Linked DNA regions of Homo sapiens. The protein of the gene in region 4 purifies or fractionates together with the protein of the main gene of each other region. This does not show direct contact. Each region holds a gene or a part of one and is shown on either strand. Other genes may lie near its edges.

Region 1 (3,500 bases), on a different chromosome or scaffold from region 4:
TTTGAAAAATAACAGTGCTGTACCACTCTATTAGATTCTTTCCATTTTTTATTAATTGAAGCACAGAGAAAAGAGGCAAAATGATTAAAGAAATTTATGTTTTTTAGACAGGGTGTTGGCTTTACACCAACGAAAAAGAAAAACAGATGAATAAGCTTTTGATCTTCATTTTCTTTCTCTTATTCTCATGGTAGGCTGAAAAACAAAAGGACAAATATAAGTCTTATTTGTAAAATGGCATGTGTTTTTCAAACCTATTAAAATAAATGCCAAATTACTTAGATCATCTTTCTGCAATTTACACCAGTGAAAACAATTTAAGCCTGTCCTAGACTTACGGCTGCTGAATTCTTCTGTTGGGCTAGGCAAGGGGACACACCAATAAATGTTGTCATAAGAAGATAAGTCCTATTAAAGCTCAGCATGTTGACAAATTGGAAATGTAATAGCAGATTCTTCACTATAAAGTTCACAGAAGGTAGATCCATCATATTCTCCAATGGAAAGGATGAGTTGAACTATTAGGTTGAACCATGTGAAATCACTGATATTCAACTGTTTTTGCCCTATAAAGCACTCTTTCATGTGGTTCAGCCTAATTCCCAGAGTATTCCACTGCTGAGCCATCACTTACTTGGATGGCTCTGTGTACCGCATCATATAAGTCAGAACAGGACAATGGGCAACACTGAAACTTTGGTTTCAATTTTGAATTTTGACCCTTTGGAAAATTACTTAATCTATGCTTTGATGTTTATCTTCATTTTCTCATCTACAAAATAGAAATAATAGTGGTTCCCAACTCAGCAACTATTTTGAGAATTTTAAAAGCTAATATTTACATACATAAATAGTTTAGAATAGTGGTCGGTGCTGGTCTATATGGCTCTTGGAAATGGTCAATCTTTGCTATTTTAATAATAACTATTATAGTTACTTTTTTAAAAAATTCAAAATATAGTTACCTGAGATGCTTTTAAATGTGATGTTATAAGCCTAAGGCAGCTTGACTTGCAGCAACAAGTTTTTTACCCTGAACACAAAGACATGACAGATGTTAGGAAAATATTAGCATTACTATTAGGATACAAAATTAACATTTATGAAGCTATTGATGATTGCAAAGTGATTTCACGTGCATCATATCCTTTAATTACAATTTACTACTATAATCTCTGGACGGAAGCTCACGGACATAGTTGTCCCCAAATGAATAAAAAAAAGTTACTGTCAGGCCATAAAGGGCAATTTTAAGTGATTTAGACATTTGAATGTAAATTCTCCCACTAGCCTATAAAATCAACTAAATCACAAACCACCACATTTCAAGTAAATGTTTAAATAAATTAATGTTTTGATTTCATGATCAAAATATTTCAGGCCTTACAAATATTCCTATTAATATTCATAAGCATCACAAATTTGGAAACAGAACAGGCATTATAAACATTTAACAGTATGGCACAATAGAGCAGGAGATAAAAACAAAGTGCTGTTTTATTCATTTTGTAAGACAATTGTTTGTAAAATAAGATCCCTGTCCCACATGTACAAAGCCTCCTTTGATATATAAATCCCTAAGCCCTAGCCTAACCAAACATGCAAAAATGAATACTGGACATATTAAAATGAAGAGAACTGTAGTACCTCCTCGGCAAAGCAGGTCTCCTTATCGTCAGCCTTGCAGCACTTCTCTACAAAAGCTGCGAAATCATCCATAACAGCTTTCAGTTGCTCTTTTGTTGCCTTGGGCTTGTGTTTCACGAGCTCAACAAGTGCACTGAGTTTGAATGGAAAAAGAAAAAAAAAAAACAGAAAAAACATTACTCACGTATAGAAAAATGGAGAGAGTAAGGATGGTAGTCCCATCATTTAAGATTATAAATCTTGGAGCCAGGCAACTCTGAGTACTTTGGGGCTCAGGCATACCGCTATAAGTCTCAATATTCTCATCTGCATGATGAGGATAATAAAATCCACTTTCATGGAGTTGGTGGGAAGACCAACTGAAACAATCAGTATAAACCACTCATCACGTTATGTAGTGTCAACAAATTTCTTTTCAGTAAATCTCTGAAAAGAAGTATGTCATTGCAATTATATATTATTCAGATTTTGGAAGTGCCATATTATGTCATATTGAGTTTTATTGCTATTAAAGAGCTAAAAATGATCCTTAAAAATTTAATTATCTTGGACTTTATTTAAAATTTTTCTCATCTATAAAGATGAGAAACTTTATATTTGGTTCTTAAACTTTGCTCCCTTCAAAGCTAATAGTGGGGAGGCTATAGAAAATAAGGCTATCCAAACTCATGGGAGCTGCTGGTTCTCTTTCACTGACATCTGCAAAGACAACAATGCCAGGGAGAGATTTGTGTGGGCATGACAGGTTTTGCAATATTACTCTTAAGCCTAGACGATGATTACAGCCCACAAGAGATGACAGCAACTTTCTATAGCTAAATTTTATGCAATTATAACCCCTGTGATAGCAATAGGGAGTTGAGCTTCAGGGCTTGCATTTCTACATGTTTTTTATCCAAGTCTCATTCTCAAAAGTCACATCTTGGGGGTTTGTCTCATGTGTGGGGCCACCATAGGGCAAACTTAAAATAATTATTTACATCTAGAAATAAATTCTCCTATGGTTCCCATTAACTAATTTGCCATGTGCACAAATTTATCAGTTAATTGTTCATCTTTTTCTACTGAATATGGCCTAACATGTTATTCTATTGTGGCTTTAATCCACAATATTACTCTGAATAATTTTAGCAATATTATAACAGAGGATTTTGTCTTTAAAAAGTTATTCATTTTATTCTGGGTACTCTTATCAGCATAATAAGGGCAACACTCCAATACTTTCCTCTAAGAAATATAATCACTACTTCAGGAAAAAGTTGCTAGCTTGAATTGACAGTTCTTGCTATCAAGACTACAAACACATGCAGTAATGAAATACTCCTCACGTTTGTTTCTTGATTTGTCTCTCCTTCTCAGAAAGTGTGCATATATCTGCATGGAAGGTGAATGTTTCAGCATTAAACTCTTTGGGAACGTATGTTTCATCGACTTCCAGAGCTGAAAAGCATGGTCGCCTGTTCACCAAGGATTCTGTGCAGCATTTGGTGACTCTGTCACTTACTGGCGTTTTCTCATGCAACACACATAACTGGTTCAGGACCACGGATAGCTAAAGAACAGGCAGGAGAGCAGAAATTCAAAAGAGGTGAAGCTGAAAATTTTCTACTAAAAATACAAAAAATTAGCCAGGCATGGTGGCATGCACCTGTAGTCCCAGCTACTTGGGAGGCTGAGGCAGGAGAATGGCTTGAACCTGGGAGGCGGAGGTTGCAGTGAGCCGAGATGGCACCACTGCACTCCAGCCTGGACAACAAAGCGAGACTCCGTCTCAAAAAAAAAAAAAAAATTATCATCCTCGGGGCCTTGACTGCCAATATCACACATACACACACGTGCATGCACACACACAT
Region 2 (3,500 bases), on a different chromosome or scaffold from region 4:
AGAAAGATTATTCACCAATACTCAGGTATTTACAGAGTTGTACAATGCAATATTGTAAAACATTATTTAGAAAGAAATAACATGGACGCTCCTCAAATGGTTAAATTATGGCATTTCCATGAAGGGGTACTATGCAGACATAAATAAGAAATTTAAAAGTTGCAGAATACCTATTATGTGTAAACACATGTTTACGTACGGAAAAGGGTCTGAGTGTTTGAGATACACCCTGGAGAGTATGTTTGGAGTGTGGGGGCAACCTTTTATTTTCTACTATATTCACTTATCATTTGAGATCTTTAATTTTGTAACTACTTCTATTCAGTTACTACTTTCACTGCTCTTTGGATAAAAAAGATCAATAAAAATTCGTATCTCACATAACATATTCAGTATGGCAGTTTTGAAGACTGTTTTGACACTTGTAAACAAACCATATAGGGAAGGAATCACAACTGTCTTTTTTTTTTTTTTTTTGAGACAGAGTCTTGCTCTTGTTGTCCAGGCTGGAGTGCAATGGTGCCATCTCGGCTCACTGCAACCCCTGCCTCCTGGGTTCAAGCAATTCTCCTGCCTCAGCCTCCCGAATACTTGGGATTACAGGCACCCGCCACCATGCCCAGCTAATTTTTTGTGTTTTTAGTAGAGACGGGGTTTCACCATGTTGGCCAGGCTGGTCTTGAACTCCTAACCTCAGGTGATCCTCCTGCCTCGGCCTCCGAAAGTGCTGGGATTACGGTGTGAACCGCCACACCCGGCCCCATTTTTTTTTTTTGAGACAGGGTCTTGCTCTGTTGTCCAGGCTGTAGTGCAGTGGTGTGGCCACGGCTATCTGAAGCCTCAACCCTCCCATGCTCATGTGATCCTCCCACAGCCTCCTCAATAGCTGGGACCACAGAGGCACACTACCACGCCCAGCTGATTTTTAAAAAGTTTTTTAATTCCCTATGTTGCCCAGGCTGGTCTCAAGTATCCTGGAGGATCCCAGGCTCAAGTGATCCTCCTGCCTCAGCCTCCCAAAATGCTGGGATTACAGGTATGAGCCATGGTGCCTGGCCACAACTATCAATTTACAGAAAAGGAAACTAAGTCTCAGAGAGGTTAAGTGAAACACCAGATGTCTGTAAAGTTACAGAGACATTAGATGGCTAGGCTGAAGATAAAACCTAAGTTTTTTTCATACGAAGTCTAAGGCTCTTTCTATATACCAAGGTATCCTTGCATCTCAGCAGCTTATTCTATGTCAGGTTATCAAAACCACAGTAAAACGTACTGCTATTTGAAAGTGTTCAAATGTTAACAGTCATATTCCCTAGATCTCTCTGCCCTCTAGAAAAAATGTCCTCCTCTACTATAACAACACTGCATATGAGGATGTAATGCTAAAAGGAAAACACACGAAAACCCTAATAACCAACACATTTAAGTGTTTCCCACAGTTATGGAATATTTAGTAATCTCCAAATGGCTCAACTTAGTGAACTGACACTGCTCTTTCTTTGTGGTCCTCAGAACTTCCGAGAAGTCACCACCAATCAAGAGCTGATTCAGAAGAGCAGAGGGACTCAGTGAAGTTCCAGAACTGGCCTGATAGCAGCCACTACATGATTAAGAAAAAAACAAGCAGCTTTGTTGTAAAAAAGATTGGCTTCATGGTTTTTATAATCATGAATTTCTCCTCCATGTTCCAATTGTCACCTGATTTTTAATCCAAGAATATCAAACTTGATGTACCCCTTTGTTTAACTGAAGGTTGCTTTCTCACTTGGTATCCCTTTCTTTCAAAATTTAACTTTCAGGAAATAAAGGTAACCAGTTTGCTATGAATGTTAACACATAGCCTTCTGGACACAATTAGAACCTGAAGTATTACGGTCTCAATGTGCAAACCAGATGAACCCGGCTAAAATAATCAAAGTTGACCACGAACATGGTATTTTCTGTATCTCTCAAGTGACTTAATATTAATCCAGCTCCAAAAGTATTGTTTATGATCAACCAGATCACATTTTGAATCCATCCTACGCTTTTTTTTTTTTTTTTGAGACGGAGTCTCGCTTTGTCATACAGGCTGGAGTGCAGTGGCGCGATCTCAGTTCACTGCAACCTCCGCCTCCCAGGTTCAAGCAATTTCTCCTGCCTCAGCCTCCCAAGTGGCTGGGACTACAGGCGCGTGCCACCACGCCAGGCTAATTTTTTTTTTTTTTTTAGTTTCACAGTGTTAGCCAGGATGGTCTTGATCTCCTGACCTCGTGATTAGCCTCCCAAAGTGCTGGGATTACAGACGTGAGCCAACGCGCCCGGCCTGCTTTTTCTTTTTTCTTTTTTTGCAGTGGTGCAATCGTGGCTCACTGCAGCTTTGACCTTTTGGGCTCAAGCAATTCTCCCACTGTAGCCTCTTGAGTAGCTGGGACTATAGGCATGCACCACCATGCCCAGCTAATTTTAAAATTTTTTGTAGAGGCAGGGGTCTTGCTACACTGCCCAGATTGGTCTTCAACTCCTGGCCTCAAGTGGTCCACCCGTCTCAGCCTTCCAAAGTGCTGGGATTAGATGTGAGCCACTGCACTTGGCCTTATTCCACAGCTTTCAAAGAATACGGTTACAGAGAGGTTGGGTCTCATAGCACTTTTATTGCTGCAGCTCATATGCAAAGGTTTTTTTTTTTTTTTAGAGGGAGTCTCACTCTTGTCCAGGCTGGAGTGCAGTGGCGCCATCTTGGCTCACTATAACCTCTGCCTCCCAGGTTCAAGTGATTCTCCTGCCTCAGCCTCCTGAGTAACTGGGATTACAGGCATGTGCCACCAAGCCTGGCTAATTTTTGTATTTTTAGTAGAGATGGGGTTTCACCATGTTGGCCAGGCTGGTCTCAAACTCCTGACCCCAAATGATCCACCCACCTCGGCCTCCCAAAATGCTGCGATTACAGGCATGAGCCACTGTGCCCAGCCTCATATGCAAAGATCTATGGGAGATTTTAATAAGCGAACACGAGTAAGACATGAGGTAAACCACTTACAGTGCGTGGGCTTATTTTAGACTTTTTCATATCATTTAATTCAAAAATAGTGTCTGGGATTAATATGATGCTAGCTACAGATCCTTACCCTCATGGGGCTTAATCTAGTACCATCAGCTAATATCCAATTATTAACCTGTCCTTCCACTGGGAGGATAAAAACAGAACTGGTGGTCAGTACAATAAGGTCAAGTTCAACAAAAGAACATTAACAATCTGAATAAGGTATCCCTTTCCTCTTTGTTCTATATACGTATCTTCTACCAAAACAGCAGAATGTGGAATTAATCTGCCCTTTAGTCCGATTTGGCTTAAATCAACTTTGTAGATCACAGTTTCTCAACTCTCACCCCTTGACTCCTTTGACAAACAAGTTTCTTCTTTAACGTTATTTGAAATTTCCAAACAAATTAAATATCATGACTAAAAAATATTAAAAGCACTTTTAAATCTTAGAATGTCTTTTCAAATCACAAGTCTC
Region 3 (3,500 bases), on a different chromosome or scaffold from region 4:
ACCCACAAGCGCGTGGTGCCCATGGCCGTCCCATCTGAGGCCCAGCAAGTTGAGGAGGAATTGTGATCGGGGGGAGAAAAGAAGAGAGTCAAAAGGAACAATGAATAGTGAGAGGAAGAGAGGGAAGCCTGGCACCTTGCAGTGTGGCTCTGGGCCTCACCCACTGGGCCCTCACCCCTGGGCCCCCACCGCTAGGCCCTCACCCCTGGGCCCCCATCCCTGGGCCCTCACCCACTCGCCAAACTTCCTAAAACATCGGGCGTGAGCTGAGGTGGACAGGAGCTTGAAGCCCTGCTCTGCCACTGCAGGCCAGAGTGGTGAGTTTTCTTCCTTGAGTTCTGGTTTATTCTTTTATAAAACAGGGATCCCACCTCCCATCTCCTAGGACACATGTAAGGAAATGAAAGAATATCTTGGGAAGAGGTTCAATACATGTGTGAAGGTCAATAAATGGCAGTGTTATGTTACGATACAAACAGGTTCACCAAAGGCCACACCAGAGGAGGGAAGACACAGAAGCTAGAAACATGTAGTAAAAACAGCCTGGGAAGCAAACAAAAGTGCGGCAAACAGCAACAATCCAAAGAGGTAAAGACTCAGAGGCATAAAAGATGACGCTATAAAAGAGAAAGAAGGATAAAAGGGAAGGCAGAAAGGAAAGGGAAGATGATGTGGCAGAAAAAATGATACTGCAGGGAGCCTAAGCCAGGAGACAGAAGAGGTCTCAAGGTCCACCCATGAGGGAACAGGGGGTGCCATTCACCCTGTTGGGAGATTTCTCATGACTGACTGAGGGCCTGGCAGCCGAGGAGCTTGTGTAATCGGGCCCACCCTCTCAAGCAGCCCTAACAATACCTGTGGGGGAGGACGCAGGGATCACCGGCTGGGGGCGCGCTCACCCAACCTGGCTGGGTGACCAGGTGTCGTGGAAACTCCACAGCACTGTCACCCACAGGTGCCACAAGCACAGCCGGGAGAGGTCACATTCTCAAACAGCCAGCCTGGGAGCCTGAAACTCCCTCCTCTGACTCAAAGACAGAAATGTTCGCTTTGAGCAAGGTCTTCTGTTATCTGTCCTCAGGGCCAAGATGATAATCCGTCATCTACGCAGAGTTTCAGGTAAAACTCTCACGTGACTCCCCGACTCACAAGGCCACAGGGATACCTGAGTACAGCATCTGGTCGCTATGCTAAGTTGCAGCAAACCTGTGCCCAGCTGTAAACCCCTTCATCAGTGTTTTAATGAAGAAGTAATGTCGTACAAATTTACTCACCTGCAAAGAGCCGATAGGTTCGGTGGCATTTAAAATTCTTATTTTTAACCCCTGGAGAAAGCAGTTCTGGAAAACAAAATATCAATGGCTTGAAGCACTTTTAGAAAGGTTCAGGGTAACAGCAGCAGAAAATGGCTAACAACATTCTCCCCAGCAAGTAAACTGCCTGTCAGACCAGGAACAAAACAACACTCTATCCCTTCAGTTGCACAAAAATTGACTCATGAAGGAAATGAGCCATGTGACGTAATAGGACACAAAATGTGCAGCCAGCTCACTAAAGAAACAGGAGCAACGGCCGAGGCTGTGATGCTCCTGTGGGAGGCCCCTTAAAAACAGGTGCTCTACAAAATGGAAAAGAAAAAAGCTGCTGACTTAAAAACAAAAACAGTTGTGAAAAATCCAAGGCAAGAATTAAAATTTTACATATGCGTCAGATCATAAAACTTCAATTACAGGCCAGGCACGGTGGCTCACGCCTGTAATCCCAGCACTTTGGGAGGCTGAGACGGGCGATCACGAGGTCAGGAGATCGAGACCATCCTGGCTAATACAGTGAAACCACGTCTCTATTAAAAATACAAAAAATTACCCGGGCGTGGTGGCACGCGGCTGTAGTCTCAGCTACTCGGGAGGCTGAGGCAGGAGAATCACTTGAACCCGGGAGGCAGAGGTTGCAGCGAGCCGAGATCGCGCCACTGCACTCCAGCCTGGGTGACAGAGCAAGAAAAAAACAAACAAACAAAAAAAAAACAAAACAAAACTTCAGTTACAGAACAGTAACATGATTTCTCCAAATAGGAACCAGTCTACCAGCTGCTACGAGGCGGGAACTCCCTGCTCTTACTGTGCGCAGAAGTACCACTTACACCGACACAAGAGTCCGTCGGAGGCATGCTGTTCGAGGCAGCCATCTGTACTTCTGACCCATGACCCAAGTGAGGTCCTCTTGTCCCCCATTTATGTTATTTATTTATTTTTTTGAGATGGAGTCTTGCTCTGTTGCCCAGGCTGGAGTGCAGTGGCATGATCTCAGCAACCTCTGCTTCCCAGGTTCAAGCGATTCTCCTGCCTCAGCCTCCCAAGTAGCTAGGATTACAGGCACCCACCACCATGCTAGGCTAATTTTTGTGTTTTTAGAAGAGTTGGGGTTTCACCACGTTGGTCAGGCTGGTCTCGAACTCCTGACCTCAGGTGATCTGCCTGCCTCGGCCTCCCAAAGTGCTGGGATTACAGGTGTGAGCCACTGCGCCCAGCCCCCATTTATGTCATATTTTGATAATGTATTGGAGGTGGCAGCGGATATAAAAATACAGCAAGCAAGAAAAGATATAAAAATAAAATCACTGTAGCAAAACATCCAAGTCAGCTCAGACAGCTGATCTGGAGGCGAGTGAAGATGCAGGAGCAGAGGCCGAGGATGCCTTCTTTGACTTAGCCGGCATTCCAGGTTTCCCGATGGATAGAATAAAATGGGGAGGAGGATCTGTTACATGATTCTCACTGGCATCTTTCTTCCTCTTGCTGGTCCTCAAATGGGATTAAAAAGCAATCGGCTGATGAGTGATAAGGCAGCTAGAAGTGTGAGAGGAGCAACGGACACTAAACCCGGCACAGCAGCCAAGCCCGTCAGCAGAAAGCACAGCTCTTGTGTGCAGGCCTGGGAGAGACAGTGTCTGAGTCTTCACGGGAAGGTATAGGGCGCCCCTAGGGTAGACAGGGAGCCGGCTAGAAGCCAGCCATGCCCACAGTTCCTGGGTCATCTATATGGAAGGAGGTATGAGGTGGGGTTGCTGTGCCAGGGGACGGAGAGAAGAGGACTCTCGGTTCAGGTTTGTTCCTCTGCAGGACCCAGGAGTGAGGCCCAGTGTCCTCTTTTCTGCTTCCCAAACACCTCGATATTCTGAGAATCCTCTCTAGCTAATCACAGTCCCAATCAAGCCTCAGTGTTGTACTATACGTTTTCACAAATTCTAAAGCTTTCAAGAAAAGTCTTCTTGAAGCTGTGCTTTTAGCAAGATGCCTTTAACCTGGGGCTCTTTAAAATTGCTTTCAAAAAGTGCCGAGCCCGTGACCTGACAGAGACTTGAGGCTGGTAAGTGCCACGTCTTATTTGTGCGCCACCACAACTAGAGGTTAGAAGGGACTCTCACTGCCTATGAGAAATCATTCTTACTTCACTAAAAACCACTTAACTGGGCTAGTCAACACAGCTGTTAATACTCG
Region 4 (3,960 bases):
AGTTTAAATGTCCGTGGGGCAGTCATACTAATGAATGTGGAAGTGTCTAAACTAGCAATATGAATTGACGATTCATTTGCATTTAAAAAATATTTACAGTTTGAGGACTGTTGAGGAGCCAGAACAAAAGGTGAAGGAGAAAGTATCAGGGTAATAATATCAATGATGAGGACAAAAAGGCAAGAAGAATAAAATGAAGATGCAAAGCAGGAAGCAGTGAATGAGAAAAAGCTGTAACAGGCAGAAAGTAGCTACCCATGGCTCTAATACTAAGACCCAAGAATATGTAAATAAACAATTATTCCACCAAGAAAGAAGGAGCAAGAGGAAAGCACGAAGACAAACAAAATATAAAGAATATCTTACACTCTGAAGGTTACAGAATATCACAAGCTACATCATGCCTCAAATTCACAACCACACTATTCATTCTATGCAGAAAATAGCTGCTAGAATTTCAACCTCAGTTCAAGTCCCTCCATCAAATCTCTCTAGGCTTGATACCTTGTAATCTGCGACCTACACACATACAGACCAGAGCCCAGACCCCCAAAACCAGTTCAAATATCAATTGCTACAGTATGTTAAATGATTCTGCTCTAGAGAAGAGAGTGAAAACAAAGAAGGGCTGGTAATACATCATCTCTAAGAATTTAGCTTGGCGTAAGTGTGCCTGTGACTAAGCTGGGTAAGAAGCACTTGGCAAATTCCCAACACAGCATCAGAGACGAGAGGTGCCTAATGAACAGTGGTTCTCAACTGGGAGAGCACTGTGTTCACCCTGGGGCTATCGTGGCAATGTCTGAAGAAATTTGGGGTTGTCACATCTGGGGTGGTGCTGCTGACATCTAGTGAGCAGAGGCCAGAGACGCTGCTAAGCATCCTACAATGTACAGGAGAACCCCACGCAGCAAAGAATTATCCAGCCAGAAATGTAAATAGTGCCAAGACTGAGAAAGAAAGAACAACATCACTGGATACAACAGAACTTCTCCACAGCATCAAATAAACTTTTAGACAACCCTTTATAAATAAAAATGGGACTTTCCCTTGCATTTGTACTCTGAATTATCTTACGCTTTACTCCATACCTCTAAACAGTTTAATAGGGGATAGGCACTATAGCGCCAAAGGAATGTTTTCTCTTGTCCCTGCAACGATGGTAGTCTGATGTCCCAGAAAGGAAGGAAAGTTAGTTTCTCTTTTCCTTGACTCTCAGATCTGGGCTCCTTCACAAGCCTTACCTGCAGCAGCTCCATTGTTGACCCCTGACATCGACGCTCCAGATCCGAGATGAGCTCTCGCAGCGACTGGGTCTGGTGGACCAGATCATTCTCAGCCTCTTCTATAATTCGTAGCCCCTTCTTCTCTTCCTGTTCCAGCTTTTTCAGCTCCCGTTGCTCCACTCTGTCTAGGATATTTCGCAGCTGATTAAACTCTGTCTGGATCCTGCATCTCTCAGGCTCCATCTGATTCTTCAGGAACAGGGAAGAAAAAGAGGCTGCTAGTCGGTCACACTGAGGGTCTCCTCTATTAAAAGCGGGGAAGTTGGGCTCAGGACTGCTTTCCTGGGCCAAGCCTCCCAGGGAGAGGGAGGGTAAATGCTGCAGGAGAAAGCCTTTGTAGCCTGTTCTTTCCTTCTTTTCTCCCTTCAGCTCTGCCCAGACCATTGGCCCCGGGCTGCTTTATCTAGGCCATCTAGACATCAACTGTGATTCCTGGGTGACGTTTAGATTCCAGGAAGCCTCCCTCACCTCTGCATCAGCCTCCTCTTCCAATTTCGAGTACTGAGGTGGAAATCACTGGCCTGTGACTAACCTGTCTCAGATCTGGGCTTCTTCACAAGCCTTACCTGCATTTTCCCTTGCATTTGTACTCTGAATGCAAGGGAAAAGCCAAAGAGACTGAAACTGTAGAGCAAGACCCAGAATTATGAATTGGGGCGACCCCTAGCCATGGTTCCTCTGCTATGTGATTGTCTCCTAGGTTCAGTTTTGATATATTTGCTATTTACCTCCTCTCCTCCCCCTGTTTGGAAGGAATATAGTGGAGGACCAGGCAAAGGGAAGCTCTTCTAGTCATGGCATCAGAGGACAGACAGGACAAGGACTCCTTTGCCCTCAGCTCCTATGACCTGCCATGATTCCTGCCCCAGGACATCTTCAGAAAAAGTCTCCCTTGCCTTCCAGGATGTTTTCTTCTCTCTGATAAAAGCTGTTAGCTTCTCAGCTTCCTGCTCCTCGTTCTTCAGCTTCTTTAGAGACTCCTGAAACTTCTCCTTGAAGAAAACAAATCAGGTCAAGCAGGATCAAGCCTTCAGTTGACTCAGTACCCAGACATAGAATGAATGGGACAGAGATTCTGCTAACCTCAAAAGAAGCCTGTCCTAACCTAGGATGAAAACTTGAGAGGGCCAACAAATCTTTTATATATATACATGGGATGAAAACCAACAGGGATAGGCTGATTCTCCATCCCCCTTGGGAAGGTGCCTGACCACAAAGCACCTGTGGCTCACGCCTGTAATCCCAGCACTTTGGGAGGCTGAGGCGGGTGGATTGCCTGAGCTCAGGAGTTTGAGATCAGCCTGGGCAACATGGCAAAACCCCATCTCTACTAAACACACACACACACGCACACACACACACAATTAGCTGGGCATGGTGGTGCACACCTACAGTCCTAGCTACTTGGGAGGCCAGGCACGAGAACTGCTTGAACCCGGGAGGCGGAGGTTGCAGTGAGCCGGGATCGCACCACTGCACTCCAACCTGGGCGACAGAGCGAGACGCCTTCTCAAAATAAATACATGAGTAAATAAATTCCTTTACCTACCCTGCCAACATATCTCCACACTCAATCAACCAAGTACCCCTTTTACCCCAAGCAGCTCTATCTACTCAATCTGGAATAGCAAGTAAATGATAAAGAATCTATTCTTAATCAGGGAGGCAGTTTCCAGGTTCATTCTCTAGGTAAATAAAGACTACAAAGAGATTAGATCAGAGCATGATAAAACGTTAAAACCTGCCAAAGACCCTGTTTCTCTGTCTCCCATTCCATCCTGGGGTCTCACCTGGTACTCCTGGGCAACCTCCTCCACGAGGAACGTGTGGTGACCACGGTGCTCCTGAGACCGCTCACAAAGCCAGCAAATGACCTTCCCATCCTCCTGACAGAAGAGCTGCAGTTTTTCTCCATGGTCTGCACAAAGAACTGCTTTCAGCTGCTTCCCAGGGCCCAACACTACCTCTCTGAGCCGCCTCACTATGTTGGCCAGATGCCGATTAGGCCGCAGGTTCCCTGGCTGGTAGCTGGTCTGGCACACAGGGCAGCTTCTTTCCCCTTCTTGACCAATCACTGATTCCCTGCCATTTGGTGTGATGCAGGCTTGGCAGAAGCTGTGGCCACAGTCTATGCTCAGGGGTTCTGTTAGGAGCTCCAGGCAGATAGGGCAGGTCACCTCTTCTCGTATGTCCACCAGTACTGGTGAAGTCATTGTAGCTACTCTCCTGGCTCCTGCCTGCCCAACCCTGATTTCTAAGATGTTTCCTGCCTGTAGAATCCTAGGTAGATGAACAAACAAAAAAAGGATCAGGGTAAGAAAGGAGGGAGAATAAGGGAATACTGACTGCCCAGTCCTGGATAAAGAGGTCAGACACCTGGGGTAACAAGGGCTTCTCATTCTCATATCCAATACGTTCTTTATCCCGGCTCATACAAGGCACCAATTTCTCCCCATATTAAAGCAGTGATAATTTCCTCTTGCTCCTATTGAATAGAGACAAACTGAGGCCCTGGAAAGGAGGGGCCTGTGTGAGTCACTGTCTGTGTGATCTTTTCTTTTTTTTCTTTTTTGAGATGGAGACTCACTCTGTCACCCAGGCTGGAATGCAGTGGTACAATCTCAGCTCACTGCAATCTCCGCCTCCCAGGTTCAAGCAATTCTCCTGCCTCAGC

Evidence for each region. Proteins that work in one complex are often made in the same cells at the same time.
Region 1: the proteins of TRIM6 (region 4) and ALB purify together in Homo sapiens (affinity purification with mass spectrometry, with the first as the bait; 2 studies listed by BioGRID). This does not show direct contact.
Region 2: the proteins of TRIM6 (region 4) and EIF4B purify together in Homo sapiens (affinity purification with mass spectrometry, with the first as the bait; one large-scale study listed by BioGRID). This does not show direct contact.
Region 3: the proteins of TRIM6 (region 4) and USP10 purify together in Homo sapiens (affinity purification with mass spectrometry, with the first as the bait; one large-scale study listed by BioGRID). This does not show direct contact.

Annotation. Positions count from the first base shown.
Region 1 is NC_000004.12:73,417,787-73,421,286, reverse strand, and holds part of ALB (albumin preproprotein), read right to left. Parts: intron 3,200-3,500; coding exon 2,976-3,199; intron 1,781-2,975; coding exon 1,648-1,780; intron 1,034-1,647; coding exon 989-1,033; 3' UTR 966-988; intron 196-965; 3' UTR 1-195. UniProt on the Homo sapiens protein: Binds water, Ca(2+), Na(+), K(+), fatty acids, hormones, bilirubin and drugs. Its main function is the regulation of the colloidal osmotic pressure of blood. Major zinc transporter in plasma, typically binds about 80% of all plasma zinc.
Region 2 is NC_000012.12:53,012,956-53,016,455, reverse strand, and holds part of EIF4B (eukaryotic translation initiation factor 4B), read right to left. Parts: intron 1-3,500. UniProt on the Homo sapiens protein: Required for the binding of mRNA to ribosomes. Functions in close association with EIF4-F and EIF4-A. Binds near the 5'-terminal cap of mRNA in presence of EIF-4F and ATP.
Region 3 is NC_000016.10:84,773,000-84,776,499, reverse strand, and holds part of USP10 (ubiquitin carboxyl-terminal hydrolase 10), read right to left. Parts: intron 1,341-3,500; coding exon 1,275-1,340; intron 1-1,274. UniProt on the Homo sapiens protein: Hydrolase that can remove conjugated ubiquitin from target proteins such as p53/TP53, RPS2/us5, RPS3/us3, RPS10/eS10, BECN1, SNX3 and CFTR.
Region 4 is NC_000011.10:5,602,852-5,606,811, reverse strand, and holds part of TRIM6 (tripartite motif-containing protein 6), read right to left. Parts: intron 3,567-3,960; coding exon 3,077-3,566; intron 2,279-3,076; coding exon 2,183-2,278; intron 1,476-2,182; coding exon 1,245-1,475; intron 1-1,244. Other genes in the region: TRIM6-TRIM34 (tripartite motif-containing 6 and tripartite motif-containing 34), read right to left, coding at 1,245-1,475, 2,183-2,278, 3,077-3,566.